Linked DNA regions of Homo sapiens. The protein of the gene in region 2 purifies or fractionates together with the protein of the main gene of each other region. This does not show direct contact. Each region holds a gene or a part of one and is shown on either strand. Other genes may lie near its edges.

The links. The genes of interacting proteins can lie anywhere in the genome.
Region 1: the proteins of NOX4 (region 2) and CYBA purify together in Homo sapiens (affinity purification with western blotting, with the first as the bait; one study listed by BioGRID). This does not show direct contact.
Region 3: the proteins of NOX4 (region 2) and ASB2 purify together in Homo sapiens (affinity purification with western blotting; one study listed by BioGRID). This does not show direct contact.
Region 4: the proteins of NOX4 (region 2) and BPIFB1 purify together in Homo sapiens (affinity purification with mass spectrometry; one large-scale study listed by BioGRID and IntAct). This does not show direct contact.

The regions. Positions count from the first base shown.
Region 1 is NC_000016.10:88,645,422-88,648,053, reverse strand, and holds part of CYBA (cytochrome b-245 light chain), read left to right. Parts: coding exon 1-9; intron 10-878; coding exon 879-953; intron 954-1,215; coding exon 1,216-1,299; intron 1,300-1,856; coding exon 1,857-1,938; intron 1,939-2,624; coding exon of another isoform or gene 2,625-2,632. UniProt on the Homo sapiens protein: Subunit of NADPH oxidase complexes that is required for the NADPH oxidase activity that generates, in various cell types, superoxide from molecular oxygen utilizing NADPH as an electron donor.
Region 2 is NC_000011.10:89,396,231-89,401,862, reverse strand, and holds part of NOX4 (NADPH oxidase 4), read left to right. Parts: intron 1-1,483; coding exon 1,484-1,648; intron 1,649-1,783; coding exon 1,784-1,846; intron 1,847-5,632. UniProt on the Homo sapiens protein: NADPH oxidase that catalyzes predominantly the reduction of oxygen to H2O2. Can also catalyze to a smaller extent, the reduction of oxygen to superoxide. May function as an oxygen sensor regulating the KCNK3/TASK-1 potassium channel and HIF1A activity.
Region 3 is NC_000014.9:93,942,071-93,945,570, forward strand, and holds part of ASB2 (ankyrin repeat and SOCS box protein 2), read right to left. Parts: intron 1-3,500. UniProt on the Homo sapiens protein: Substrate-recognition component of a SCF-like ECS (Elongin-Cullin-SOCS-box protein) E3 ubiquitin-protein ligase complex which mediates the ubiquitination and subsequent proteasomal degradation of target proteins.
Region 4 is NC_000020.11:33,303,714-33,307,213, forward strand, and holds part of BPIFB1 (BPI fold-containing family B member 1 precursor), read left to right. Parts: intron 1-244; coding exon 245-312; intron 313-1,132; coding exon 1,133-1,178; intron 1,179-2,288; coding exon 2,289-2,352; intron 2,353-3,197; coding exon 3,198-3,274; intron 3,275-3,500. UniProt on the Homo sapiens protein: May play a role in innate immunity in mouth, nose and lungs. Binds bacterial lipopolysaccharide (LPS) and modulates the cellular responses to LPS.

The sequences.
Region 1 (2,632 bases), on a different chromosome or scaffold from region 2:
CTACTCCATGTATCCTTCCACCTGAGGCTGGGGTGGGCGGGGAACGCCCAGGGCAGAGCTGGGGAGCCACTTCACAGTGAGCTGTTTGCCTCCGCTCCCCACCACCGCAGCCAGGCTGGGACACAGGGTGGGCTGTGCACGGGTTGGGCAGCCCAGGCCCCAGCAGCCAGGCCCCTCGCCAGGACCATGTGGCGATCAGCGGCAGACCCGCCAGTCTAAGTCCTGGTGAGTGGTGGGCAGGGGGTGTCACCAGAGGGCCAGGGCCAGCACTGAGGCCTCCCTGTTGGACTGCTGGGATCCCCTCTGCCCGCTCCTGTCAGTCATCCCCCTTGACCGGCCCCTCTACCTCCTCTGCCCCATCTCAGCCCTGCCGCCCAGCCGGACCTTGCGACAAGGAGCACTGGGCAGGGTGGTGGGAGGGAGGGCGTGGGCAGCCCCGAGTGCCAGACCTGTTGGAACCTCCCGTGGCTGCCTCCTGGCTCTGTGACCTCAGGCAGTGGCTGCCCCCGACCTTTTTTGAGACAGGGTCTCGCTCTGTCCCCCAGGCTGCAGTGCAGTGGTGCAGCTGTGACTCATGGCAGCCTCCACCTGGGCTCAGGCCACCCTCTTACCTCAGCCTCTGGAGTAGCTGGGACCACAGGCACACACCACTGCACCTGGCTTTTAAATTTTTTGTAGAGATGAGGGTCTCACTATGTTGCCCAGGCTGGTCTCAAACTCCTGGGCTCCAGTGATCCTCCCGCCTCAGCCTCCCAAAATGCTGGGATTCCAGGCATGAGCCACCGTGCTCGGGCCCCTCTCTGTGTTGTCTTCAGTAAAGGGAGTTCCCTGTGGCCCCTCAGGCTGAGCTGGGCTGTTCCTTAACCACATGGCTTCAGTGTGGCGGGCGTGTTTGTGTGCCTGCTGGAGTACCCCCGGGGGAAGAGGAAGAAGGGCTCCACCATGGAGCGCTGGTGAGTCTCCTCCTGCTCTGGGGTCTCTCCGGGGGCTGCGGGGCCCAGGCAGGGCTCACAGGGTTGGGTGGAGCTTGGTTTCTCACTTGGAGGCTCCGGAACCAACCCTTTGGTGCTTGTGGGTAAACCAAGGCCGGTGCCTGCCCGGTGTGTTTTGTGGGAGGAAAGAGGCCTGGGTGCCCTGGGGTGGTCAGCAGGGCAGCAAAGGAGTCCCGAGTGGGAGAGGCCCAGCCGCGCCGTCTCGCCTTCCTCCCTCCCCCAGGGGACAGAAGTACATGACCGCCGTGGTGAAGCTGTTCGGGCCCTTTACCAGGAATTACTATGTTCGGGCCGTCCTGCATCTCCTGTGAGTCCCCGTCCCGCACCCCCTCTAGGGCTCAGGAGGGCTTGGAGCCGACCCTCCCCACTGTCCCACCGGCCGGGCTGCCTGGACAGGAGCCACCCCCACTTACCTCAGTGTTTTTCCAAACAAAAATTCGGGTCCCTGGCTCTGGCAGGGCCTGTGTCTGCTGTCTAGTGTGCAGGATTTGTAAGGATCCACTCCAAATCCGAGGAGCTCCGATCCGTCGCCAGGGTCTGGGGTCAGCATGCACTGCTGGGGGGTCTTGCCTGGGCTTCCTGGTAGGGTGGAGGGTTCCGTGCTGTGTGTCTGCTGGTTACTGCCGGCTGAGGCCAGGACACCCACACGTGGCTGCTTCCTCCGAGCAAGTGCACCAGAGCCGCTAGTGTCCACATCAAGGCTGAGAACACCCAGGACCGAAACAAGCCCCGGTCCGCGCACGTCCCCTGGGTCTGCAGTCTGCCTTGTCCTGAGACTTTGTGGCCTTGGCCCCCAGACCTGGGGCTCCGTTCCCCTTTCTGAGTGCCCTTCTGTGTCCCTGCCTCTCACCCGCTGTCCCCCAGGCTCTCGGTGCCCGCCGGCTTCCTGCTGGCCACCATCCTTGGGACCGCCTGCCTGGCCATTGCGAGCGGCATCTACCTACTGGTGAGTGGCGCCCTCTGAGGTCGGCCCCGGCCACCCCCATCCCCAGCCCCTGCCCTGACACCCTCGGACACGCATGGCCCTTGAAGCCGGCTCTGTAGGCTGAGCCAAGGCTGGGAGCAAGTGTGAGCCTGGGCGTGTGCTCACAGCACGGCGGGGACGCAGCGGTTGCTGCTGCCATTTTTGGCGTGTCTAGTGTGTCGGGTCATTTCCTTGCATTTCCTCATTAACCCGCACCACAGCCCTGGGAGGGGTACTGGGGTCCCCACTTTACAGACAAAGATGCGGAGGCTCAGGGAGGTGCTGTGACTGGCCTGGGGTCACGCAGCCGGCCGAAGACCGTGCCTGCGCTTGGGTCCCATTATCAGGCTTTTCTCACCTAAACCCTATTCGCGCTGATTCATGGGCGGTGCCAGGACGCAGACATTTTCTTAAACTGCCGACACCTGCGTTTGGTTTATGACTGCTGCACCCTGTTAGAAGGCTGCCCATCCCATGGGATACAGTGATCTCTCTGAGAGGCCAGGGATGGGTGGGAGGACAGGGCGCAGCCTGGCCAGGCCTTGGGTGAAATGCCCTCTGCCTGCCCTGGGCTCCGGAACAGACGGCTGCAGGCCACCTCTCACTGCGGGGGTCTCTGGGTGGACAGAGCCCTCAGACTTTGCTTATTTAAATCCTTTTGTCCATAGAGCCAAGT
Region 2 (5,632 bases):
TGTATGCCTAATACAGAACACTTATTAGACATACAGAATGTTTCTTGCAATATTCGCAATGACTATTTGAAGTAATTAATATCACCCTCGATTTTCTGATAAAGAAATTGTACTTACCTTGATCAAAATCTCCAAACCAGTAAGTGGCAGAGGAAGCATGTAAACCCAGGTCTTTGACTAATATGCTTGCTCCTGGTAAACGTCCATAAGTATTCAGCGATTAGTTCAATAAGGGCCCTTATCTTCCTCTGTGCCTGTGAGAACTGCCCCCGTGCAAATTACACCTTTTATTCCTCACCTATAAAAAGTGGAAGTAGGAAATAGTGATGTCAAATGTCTCTATTGGAAGAGAAGAAAGAGAAGTCAAAAGCTAGAATGAATTTGTAGATGACTTTGGAATAGTGTATTAGTCGTGTTTATTATTATTAATAATAATCCTCTAGATCCCTATTAGCCTCTATAATTTTCAGAACTTTTCTGAGTTTCACATAATATTCACAAATATTAGGGCAGGTATGGCGACTCCCATTTTGCTCATGTGGGACCTGACACTCAAAGAGTAAGTGATTGTCTCAAAGGTGCAAGGCTGCTACATTGCAGACCTTGTCTTGTAGTGCTACTCATAACACAGTGTGGGGCTAAATGTTATTATATGCAGAAGAGGCATGGTCTGTCTGCATGAAAGAAGGAAGATTTGAAACAACTAAAGTGAGGCTTTAAAAAGTGACCATTAAGACAAGTTTTAGTTGGAGGCCTCAAAGGGATGTGAAAGATAAAGTGTGTAATTTTAGGAGAACAGTAAGCCACATAGGCTTCTGCACTTCCCAAAGTTTGCATGTGTCCTGGGATCAGGGCTAACCATGCAACACATATTCAAAACTGTCATGGTTTCCAAATTATAAATATTATTTTATGTTCTTATTATATTATATAAAAGTAAGTGGTAAACAACATGCCTAGCATATTGCATCTTTAAACATATGTGCTATACATATTTAACATATATATATATACATATTATATGTATGTATATTATGCATATACATTATGTACATTAAAAATCTAGGGTTTTCTTATTTAATAAACATTAGACTGTTACCTTATTTCTAAAATTATCCCCAGATTTATCGGAGATTGTTAACTCCCCTTTATTCTTTTATTAAATATATTGTGTATATACATTACATATCTGTAGGCATAGAAAGGTGTATGAAAGAATATATACTTGTTTGCTCATGGATAGTTACACCCAGGGCATGAGATTGAGGGTAGGGTCTTGATATTACTTTCTGTTTTATTTTATACTTTTGTTTGTTTGAATGATAGTGAGCATCTATTATTTTTTACTCATTTGTTATGTTTTCTTATTTAAAATACAAATTAAAATACTATTACTGTAATGTATGCAATAAGCAATTGGGCAGGGTGTAGATTTCTACAATATGAGTATTTCTTGAAGTATATTTTCAAAAATTTGTCTTAGACTTGGCTTTGGATTTCTGGACCTTTGTGCCTGTACTGTGCCGAAAGACTTTACAGGTATATCCGGAGCAATAAGCCAGTCACCATCATTTCGGTCATGAGTCATCCCTCAGATGTCATGGAAATCCGAATGGTCAAAGAAAATTTTAAAGCAAGACCTGGTCAGGTGAGTCAGTGGTCAGCAACTTTTTAAATAGCCTTTATCCTTATGTAATTTTTGGAATTTAGCAAACATAGCATCATTGAAATAGTTGAAATTCTTAATTGGTCATTTAAAACTTATCTGTTTGTTGCTTTTTAGTATATTACTCTACATTGTCCCAGTGTATCTGCATTAGAAAATCATCCATTTACCCTCACAATGGTAAGAAACATATCTCTTGCTTTTTCACATTTGTAGGGTGCTATGCATATTTTTCTTTTTTTGTGTCCTGTCTCATTCTAAAAGGTATTCAAGGCTATCATAGTACTCTTGATGTTTAAGTAAGCTATCTTTTTACAAGGAAAATAGTTATCTGCTCAAGAACTGTGTAACTACACTTTATTATTTTTTGACACCTTGCAATTCAGGAAGTAATGAATTAAAACGTATTAAAGCTTGTTGATTCAAAATATAGGCCAAGCACAGTGACTCAGGCCTGTAATCCCAGCACTTTTGGAGGTCAAGGTAGGAAGACCACTTGAGCCCCGGATTTCAAGATCAGCCTGAGAAACATAAGGAGACACTGTTTCTACAGTAAATAAAAAAAAAAAGCCAGATGTGGTGGTACACATCTGTAGTCCCAGCTACTAGGAAGGCTGAGGCAGGAGGATTGCTTGAGCCCCAGTGTTTGAAGTTTCATTGAGCCTTGATCCCACCACTGCTCTCCAGCCTGAGCAAGAGAGTGAGACCTTGTCTCAAAAAACAAATATATATATATATATATATATATATATATATATATATATTTAATTTCTTGAATATTTACTTTTCTCCTTTTATGGAGTATTTTAATGTATATGGAAATCTTATATATGCACAATTTTCTTTGGAGATGGAATTTAGGGGAAATACGGATACTCTGGGTTGAGGTGGAAACATTAAACAAAACAGGCAGTGTTTAGAAAAGGTAAAATCCAGTGTAATGGGAGAGAGAATGGAAATAAAATTAGAAAAATCAAATGGAGTAAATAATGGCATGGGAGGGCATCTAGCTAAATAATGGACACCATCAAATATGATTAGCTAGTCAGCATATCATTTAATATTATTATAATTATAAAAATAGCATGAGTTCATTATAAACATTTAGACAATTCACAGATATAAAATAAAATACAAACTTAAAAAAATTTTTCCCCACTTTCCAATCCTTTTCTCTACTGTTTGACATATGTCTTTCCAGATATTTTCCCATATGCTTCTGCATACATGAGTTTCTAACATTTATTTGCTGGATCATATTGTTTTGTAACTGGCTCCTTTCACTCAACTACATGTGATGGACATCTTTCCATATTACTGTATGTGCCTCATTCATGTTAATGACCATATAATATTTCACAGTAGGAAAGTACTGTAATTTATTTAATATTCTCATTGAAGTTGGATATTTGGACTTTATTCATTTTCTAAGAAAGATAATTGAGAACAGAGACCACATGTTTAAATGTATACTTAAGAAAGATAGCAAAACTATTTTATATATATGGTATGTATACATGCAGACAGATGGGAACATGTTGTAAAGCATGTTGTAAAACATGTTCCCATCTGTCTGCATCTATACATCCCATATACATGAAATTGGTAACATGAAAATAGAAGGGAATAATTGAAAAGGGAGAAAATACACAAGTAAGTTTGTCTTTACTTAAATAACTTAAGAAGTTTTGCCTAATCCTGAGTTCATAAGAAATTTACTTCAGATTGCCCTGGCCAGAACTTCCAACACTATGGTGAATAGGAGCGGTGAGAGAGGGCATCACTGTCTTGTGCCAGTTTTCAAAGGGAATGCTTCCAGTTTTTGCCCATTCAGTATGATATTGGCTGTGGGTTTGTTATAAATAGCTCTTATTATTTTGAGATACGTTCCATCAATATCTAGTTTATTGAGAATTTTTAGCATGAAGGGCTGCTGAATTTTGTTGAAGGCCTTTTCTGCATCTATTGAGATAATCAAGTGGTTTTTGTCTTTGGTTCTGTTTATGTGATGGATTACATTTGTTGATTTGCATATGTTGAACCAGCCTTGCATCCCAGGGATTAAGCCAACTTGATCTCGGTGGATAAGTTTTTTGATGTGCTGTTGGATTCGGTTTGCCAGTATTTTATTGAGGATATTTGCATCAATGTTCATCAGGGATATTGGTCTACAATTCTCTTTATTTGTTGTGTCTCTACCGGGCTTTGGTATCAGGATGGTGCTGGCCTCATAAAATGAGTTAGGGAGGATTCCCTCTTTTTCTATTGATTGGAATAGTTTCAGAAGGAATGGTACCAGCTCCTCTTTGTACCTCTGGTAGAATTTGGCTGTGAATCTGTCTGATCCTAGACTTTTTTTTGGTTGGGAAGCTGTTAATTACTGCCTCAATTTCAGAGCCTGTTATTGGTCTTTTCAGGGATTCAACTTCTTCCTGGTTTAGTCTCGGGAGGGTGTATGTGTCGAGGAATTTATCTATTTCTTCTAGATTTTCTAGTTTATTTGTGTAGAGGTGTTTATAGCATTCTTTGATGGTAGTTTGTATTTCTGTGGGATCAGTGGTCATATCCCTTTTATTATTTTTATTACATCTATTTGATTCTTCTCTCTTTTCTTCATTATTCTTGCTAGCAGTCTATCAATTTTGTTGATCTTTTCAAAAAACCAGCTTCTGCATTCATTGATTTTTTGAAGTGTTTTTTGTGTCTCTCTCTGCTTCAGTTCAGCTCTGATCTTAGTTATTTCTTGCCTTCTGCTAGCTTTTGTATTCGTTTGCTCTTGCTTCTCTAGTTCATTTAATTGTGATATTAGGGTGCCAATTTTAGACCTTTCCTCCTTTCTCTTGTGGGCATTTAGTGCTATAAAGTTCTCTCTACACACTGCTTTAAATGTGTCCCAGAGATTCTGGTATATTGTGTCTTTGTTCTCATTGGTTTCAAAGAACATCTTTATTTCTGCCTTCATTTCATTATTTACCCAGTAGTCATTCAGGAGCAGTTTGTTCAGTTTCCATGTAGTTGAGCAGTTTTGAGTGAGTTTCTTAATCCTGAGTTCTAACTTGATTGCACTGTGGTCTGAGAGACAGTTTGTTGTGATTTCTCTTCTTATACATTTCCTGAGGAGTGCTTTACTTCCAGCTATGTGGTCAATTTTGGAATAAGTGTAATGTGGTGCTGAGAAGAATGTATATGCTGTTGAATTGGGGTGGAGAGTTCGTAGATATCTATTAGGTCCGCTTGGGGCAGAGCTGAGTTCAAGTCAAGGATATCCTTGTTAACCTTCTGTCTCATTGATCTGTCTAATATTGAAAGTGGGGTGTTAAAGTCTCCCACTATTATTGAGTGGGAGTCTAAGTCTCTTTGTAGGTTTCTAAGGACTTGCTTTATGAATCTGGGTGCTCCTGTATTGGATGCATGTATATTTAGGATAGTTAGCTCTTCTTGCTGAATTGATCCCTTTACCATTATGTAATGGCCTTCTTTGTCTCTTTTGATCTTTGTTGGTTTAAAGTCTGTTTTATCAGAGACTAGGATTGCAATCCCTGCTTTTTTTTGTTTTCCATTTGCTTGGTAGATCTTCCTCCCTCCCTTTATTTTGAGCCTATGTGCATCTCTGCACGTGAGATGGGTTTCCTGAATACAGCACACAGATAGGTCTTGACTCTTTATCCAATTTGCCAGTCTGTGTCTCTTAATTGGGGCACTTAAAGGGTATTCAGTTAGGAAAAGAGGAAGTCAAATTTTCCCTGTTTGCAGATAACATGATTGTATATTTAGAAAACCCCATCGTCTCAGCCCAAAATCTCCTTAAGCTGATAAGCAACTTCAGCGAAGTCTCAGGATACAAAATCAATGTGCAAAAATCATAAACATTCCTATACACCAATAACAGACAAACAGAGAGCCAAATCATGAGTGAACTCCCATTCACAATTGCTTCAAAGAGAATAAAATACCTAGGAATCCAAC
Region 3 (3,500 bases), on a different chromosome or scaffold from region 2:
GGAGCGGCCACGTTGGTAGCCCCACTGCACATCATCACTCCTCTTCCCAGCCCATTTTGTGGGGCAGAGGACAGGAGGACAAGGGGGTGACCCCACCAAACAGTCTGACTCTTCCCACTTCTCCCACAGGCACGTTTTGGATTCTCAGAGTATAATTGCTCAAGCGGCACCTCATGAAGAGGAACAAAGGTGACTATTGTCTGATAGAGCCGTAGGTGTCTGGAAGAATGGCCCCCTACCCCTTCCTTGTCCCCTCCCCAATGCAGAGGCCACAACTACCAGCTTAGCCTTTCCTGTCTGGGCCCTGAGACCGGAGCAGATCCAGCTCAGGGTCATTCCAGGAAGACCCAGTGCAGCAGTGTGGCAGGTGCTGAGCTGTCTCTGACCTTGGACCTCATTCCGAATCACTGGGCTCTTGTCTTGTTCCTAGGACCCACCAGTATCTGAAGCCTGACATCCTTGCCCCAGGTCTGGGCTCCCACTCCAGGATTCTAGTTTCCTCAGAGCAGCAGCCTTGCCATACCACCTGGCCCTGGCTCTGATGTCCTTCCTGAATCTAGCCCAACAGCAGGGGAATGGGCAGAGAGCTTTGAGCCAACGCAAGCTGTCCTTAGCTAGAGAGGGGCCCAGCATGGGCAGTGGGGAAACTGGGAGGCTCAGAGTCAGGGGTACATGGGTTACACACCAGCTCTACCCTTCAGCACTGGGCCAGCGCAAGCATGTCACTTAACCTCTCTGAACCGCACCTAAAGCAGAGGGGTAATTAATTGTAATAATAGTGATGATGATGATGATGATGATGATGGTGATAGCTATAGCTACCCTTTATTGAGCTCCAGTGGGTTGCTGTGAGCACTTTACCCCTTACCTTCTTAAGTCATAATTGTGCTAATATTGCTGAGCGCTTACTGTGTGCCAGGTACCATTTAAAGTGGTCCTCACATTTGTTTACTTCATTTAATCCTAGCATGACCCTCAGAGCTAAGAACTTAATCTCATTTACTCATTTACTCATAACAATCCGGCAAGGTAGGACTGCTTACAACCCCAGGTCCAGGTTACAAAGCACAATGTAATGATCTTTCACCAAGGCTGCTTCTGAGTATAAATGAGATCTTTCCCATGAATCTGATTGGCCCGTAGTCGGCAGTGAATGAACAATGCTCTTGGTATCTTGACCACCACCACAACTGCAGCCTACTGCCCCTGCTACCCTAAACACAGAGGCATTCTGGATCACCAGGTCACTGTGCTTTGACCCTTGTCAGTGTTCAATGTAAATTTGGATGGAGGGCCGGGCGCGGTGGCTCACGCCTGTAATCGGAGCACTTTGGGAGGCTGAGGCGGGTGGATCAGTTGAGCTCAGGAGTTCGAGACCAGCCCGGGCAACATGATGAAACCCGGTCTCTACTAAAATACAAAAATTAGCCAGGCACAGTGGTGGACACCTGTAATCCCAGCTACTTGGGAGGCTGAGGAAGGAGAATCACTTGAACCCAGGAGGCAGAGGTTGCAGCGAGCCAAGATTGTGCCACTGCACTCCAGCTTGGGTGACAGAGAGTCGGTCTCAAAAACAAACAAACAACAACAAAAACATTGGCTGGAGGATTGACATGGGAACCAGTTGCCCACAGACGGCTCCATTGCCAACACTTCTGAGCTTCACTGTGCCACCCTGACTTGTTTTCTATGAAGTCTTGAGCTCTGAGCCTCAGTTTCTCTTTTAACTAATGGGGATATTAACTTGCTTGTCAGTGTGCTTTATAAGCTGCTTTTTAATTTAATGTGTTAAGTGTTCTCTATTTTGCCTTATTCTAGGAAGAATTTCAAGTGGCTTGCAAAGATTGATAAAATACAGCAAAAGTGTTATATGTTGGAACTAAAAGAGAAGGAATATTTAAAAACGAGGGAGGCAGAAGTAAGGCCCAGAATGCAAGTCTGTGTTTTCTGTTGGCCACAGAAGAGGCTCTAAGATCCTGATTCTCTACCCAGGCTGCACAGTAAAATCTCCCGGGCAGCTCTTAGACACCTTGAAGCCTCAGCCACGGCCCAGACCAGCGGCAGCGCCATCTCGTCAGGTGGGGCCCAGGCATCAGGGTTTCTGGTGCAGCCAAGGTTGGACACTACTGTTTTGGGTGCTATTCTTGGGGCATCTGCTCTGCGCTAACTCACACAGTTTCTTAATACGTCTATCTTTGGTGTTGATCTTTGATTTCATACGGTGGCTTTGCTAAACTGGAAATGAACAACAGGAAAATGCGTGTCTTGGAGGTGACTGCGACATCGGGACTTTAGGGCTCCTTTCTCAGCACACCCGCATGTCACCCCTTGCGGTTAAGTGTGCTGACGAGAAGACACCATCTGGCAAACAGCCTTCGGCTCCTGGTGCTGCCTTCCATGCCTGGGACGGATGGCCAGGGTGTGTTGGCAGGTGGCAGAGTGTGGAATGCCTATGGAATGTCACATCAAATCCCCGAGCAGAGGGCCTTTAATGCTGTATGCCCAGGGAGGGAGTGATGAGCTCGGGGCTTGCTGGCCATGGGCTCTGCCTGGTGGCAGAAGCTGCTGGGAACCAGGCTTTAACCCTTTGTTGCTTAGCCCTAAAAAGTGGCCCAGGCCCCTCTGAGCCTTGGGGGACAGAGGGAAATGGGGCCCGGGGGTGGAGGTTGAATAACCAGGGAATTCGCCCTGGGAATCCACGTGAATCCAAGGTAGATGAGTTTACAGGAACATCAGCCATGGACACAGTGTTCCAGGCAGGACGCGCCTTACTCTCTGATCATCCGCAAGGCCACCTAGTGCCCCTTCAGCTTCTCCTCCAGCTGGGGCCAGACTGCCAACACCTCTGGGTTCACTTGAAGGCAGCCCAGATGAAGGTCCCAGCCCTGCCGCTATCTCAAAAATCACTTCCATATCTGACCTTGGCTTCCTTCTCTGTAAAACCAGGGCCTGAATTAGATCAATGGTCCCTGCAGCTATAGACAGGCTGTATCTGATTTGCTCAGGGAGCTTTTCAAAGAGACAGTGGGGCTCCTTCTCTCCTGGAGATTCTGATTCACCGGATCTGATATGGCATTTTAAAAATAGCCCAGAGGGACATGGATGTGCAGGCTAGAATTGGGGGGCAGTGGGCCAGGAGATTTCCAAAGTGCACCCACTTCCCGTGTGTTCACTCTGGATCTCTCTGGGGTCAGGCTCAAGGTAAACTGTGTTTGCCCAACTCTGACTGATGCCCGATGATTTGTGGAACTCAAGAGAAAGGAGCCGTCTTGTCCATGCCCACTGCCTGGCTTGAGCTGCTGTCTGAACCGCTCAATCATGGAATGCACTCTCCCTAAGTAAGAGTGGGTGAGCATAGGACGCCTGAGCACACACTGGGTGCAGGCGCTCTGCTAGGTGCTTTTTTCCATTCTATATCCGTACGTATCCATTTTACTGGTCCTCCGACAACCCCATGAGGCGGGTGTAACCATTTCCCATTTTATAAATGAGGAAAATGA
Region 4 (3,500 bases), on a different chromosome or scaffold from region 2:
GTCGTCATCGTCATCATTATCATTCCCCACAGCAAGCCTAGACTGTCATCTGTTAAATGGGGAGTGGAGGCAAGTACTATCTCATTTAACAGATGAGGCAGGTGAGGCCCAGAGAGGTCAAACCCTTTGCCAAGGTCCCAGAGCCAGGAACTGAGATTCAGACCCCAGAGCCTCCCTGCATAACCCCTAATTCCACACTCGGATCCTCTTGAGAACAATGGGGCCTGGGCTTCTCTTGTTGCAGGAAGCCAGCTCGGAAGCTCAGTTTTACACCAAAGGTGACCAACTTATACTCAACTTGAATAACATCAGGTAAACACACAAATCATCATGAAGATTCTGCTGATGGAAATGAGTCCCGCCTGGTAACCATGGGTTTCTTTAAACACCGACTTTGTGGCTGTCAGGTGAAGGCGGCTCCAGGGTAGGCAGGGAGGTCCTTCCGGATGCTCCTGCTGACAAGGACTGCATGTGAGGGAATGGGGAGGAAAATGAAGTAGGCCTTGCAGCAGCCACGGCACAGGCAAACCCTAGCCGCGGCCAGCCCACTCTGGACACCTCCCAGGCCGTGGCAGTGACAGTCACCCGGCACAGAAGTGCAGGGCTCCAGCTGCCTCCTGCACCCTGCCTGTTCTCCCTCCCCGCCACTTTCCTGTGGCCCCAGAGTGAGTGCAGGGGCTGCCAGCTGGAGCCTCTGGGGACAAGTCAGGCCCAGGGCTCTTTTGATCAGCCCACATAGGGCTGGGCTGTTTAATATAAATGAGTTGTGCACATATCAAATCAGACTATCTGGCTGCCCTGTGCCCACAATCCTACATAGCAACAAACTGTCGAGCCAGGAATTGGGGCGCCCTTTGAAGGAGCTTGGGCCTCCTTGTCCACCACAGCCCTGACTCCTGAGGTTGATTTTTCTGCTCACTGGACTGCTATTTGTTTTCTGTGCCCCCTCTATGCCCCCCACCCCACCCCTGCCATTAGAATGCAAGCTCCACGACGCAAGGGCTTCATGTGGTTCACTGGAGCCCGCACTGTGCCTGGCACATAATAGGTGCTCAATAAATCGCTGTTGAATGAGTGGATGGTGAATGAGTGGGACTTCAGGGGCCGCTCTCACAGGCATCTTCCATTGCAGCTCTGATCGGATCCAGCTGATGAACTCTGGGATTGGCTGGTTCCAAGTAAGTGTTAACAGGTGGTGCCTGAGGGCACAGGGGGTGGCCTGGAATGGTCCACTCTCAAAACAGATATTGCCCAGGATTTGCTTCAAACAAGGTCCCCACAGAAGCACCATGGGGGGCTGGCCGGTCTCCACCAAAGTCCAACTTCCCTCGAGTGTTTACAGAGAAGCCACCACGTGTCAGACACAGCTGAGAACACACACACGCACACACAAATACACTCACAGATACACACTTTCTTTCAGTGAAGTTTTGATCCTGAATTAGAACACAAGTGCCCTTGACTCACAATCTCATTCTGCACACGTAGACGCGCCTCAGTGCCCCTAGACAGCCCTTTCCTGCTGGGATTCAGACCGAACCCCAATACCTCAGTCTGGCGTGTTTTCTCTGGTTTTTATGATTTGTTTTTCACTATTTTTGACTTTTTTTTTTTTTTTTTTTGAGATGGAGTCTCGCTCTGTCGCCCAGGCTGGAGAGCAGTGGTGTGATCTTGGCTCACTGCAACCTCCATCTCCCGGGTTCAAGCAATTCTCCTGCCTCAGCCTCCTGAGTAGCTGGGACTACAGGCGCCCACCACCACGCCCGGCTAATTTTTTGTACTTTTAGTAGAGACAGGGTTTCACCATGTTAGCCAAGATGGTCTCGATCTCCTGACCTCATGATCTGCCCGCCTTGGCCTCCCAAAGTGCTGGGATTACAGGCATGAGCCACCATGCCCGGTGACTAATATTTTAAAACACGGAGAGTTCCACATGCAAATCAGGACTTCTGGCTTCCCTCCAGAAGTCAGAAGTTCAGGCAATGCAGGGCAAAATTCCCTCAGGGCAAATTCAGCTGCAACAGAGTGGTGGGGCCCCTGAGGATGGGGCATCCTCCAATGCACCCCAATCCCCCCATCTACCAGGCCCCAGGGGCGGCTGAGTTCATGCCCCAACCCAGCCCATCTGGTCCCTGGGAGCCCCCACAGCTCTGATCAGCAGGGGACCTGGAATTCCTACATCTCCACCAGCCACCTCACCCATGGGGAGGAGCCACACCCACGAAGAATGATGGGGGGGAACTTCAGATGCTCAACCAGGGTGACAGTGCCCCTTCTCTCTCTCACAGCCTGATGTTCTGAAAAACATCATCACTGAGATCATCCACTCCATCCTGCTGCCGAACCAGAATGGTGCATACCTCTGCCATCTGTGCCCCCTCTCTCCCCAGGGCTTGGCTTTACTTCCCCTGCCCTCATCTCCATGAATGGGGCCCCTTTCATTCATCTCCCAGCCATCCCTCAGAGCCTACTTCAAAATCTGCCTCCTCCCAAGAACCTTCTCAGCCCAATTCCTTTGCTAGTGCCAGAGGCTGGGCTCGTAAAGATGAACCAAGCAGTGGGCCAGACTTGCAGGGCTGGAAGGAGACAGAGGCATAAGCAGACAATGAGAGCAATGACAGAGGTGTAAGAGACAACTGGAGGCGCCTCAGCAGACCCTGTTCCCCCTCTTGCTAGTGCCTGGCCTTGGTCAAGCTGCACAATCCTTCTGAGCCTCAGTTTCTCCATCTGTAAAATGGGGACGTAGAAGTACCTTCTTCAGAGGCACAAATCAGGAGGTGCCTGGCACAGTCAGTGCCCAACACTCTAATTCAGCCCCAGGTTGAATGAGGGGTGGGAAGGGTTTGTAACCTATACAGTTCCACCTTTTTAATTTCTTTATTTTATTAGACTGGAAAAATCTCAAAGTATAGAAACCTCTGCTGGGGATAATGGGAGCCCCTGATGGTTCTTGAGCAAGAGCGTAAGAGAATGTGAGGACTGCATTTTGTGAGGGGCCAGAAGCCAGTGCCAGAGGCAAAGGGAGGGTAGACGAGGCTGGGTCAATGCTGGGGCCAGAGAACAGGCGAGCAGAGGCAGAGGGGGCTGTCTGATCAGGCCTGCCAGGCCGGGGCTCCCCTTCAGGAACCCTGAGCCTGCCCCTGGCTGCCCAGTCTCACCCCAGGCCCATCAGTTTCTGACCACATTTGTTATTTCAGGCAAATTAAGATCTGGGGTCCCAGTGTCATTGGTGAAGGCCTTGGGATTCGAGGCAGCTGAGTCCTCACTGACCAAGGTGAGTGGGTGTGGCCCTAAACATCCTGCCCCAGGGAGGGCACAGCCACTGAGAGCCCTGGCTGGGAGGTGGGGCCTGCACTCCAACCCCAGCCTACAGGTGACCCTGGGCAAGTCCCTTCCCCTCTCAGGGCCTCACCTCCTCATCTGCAAGTGAGAAGGTTGGCTGTGCTGAGGATGGAACCCTCCTAGCCTGGGGTCAGTACACTTTTTCCACCCCCTTGTCA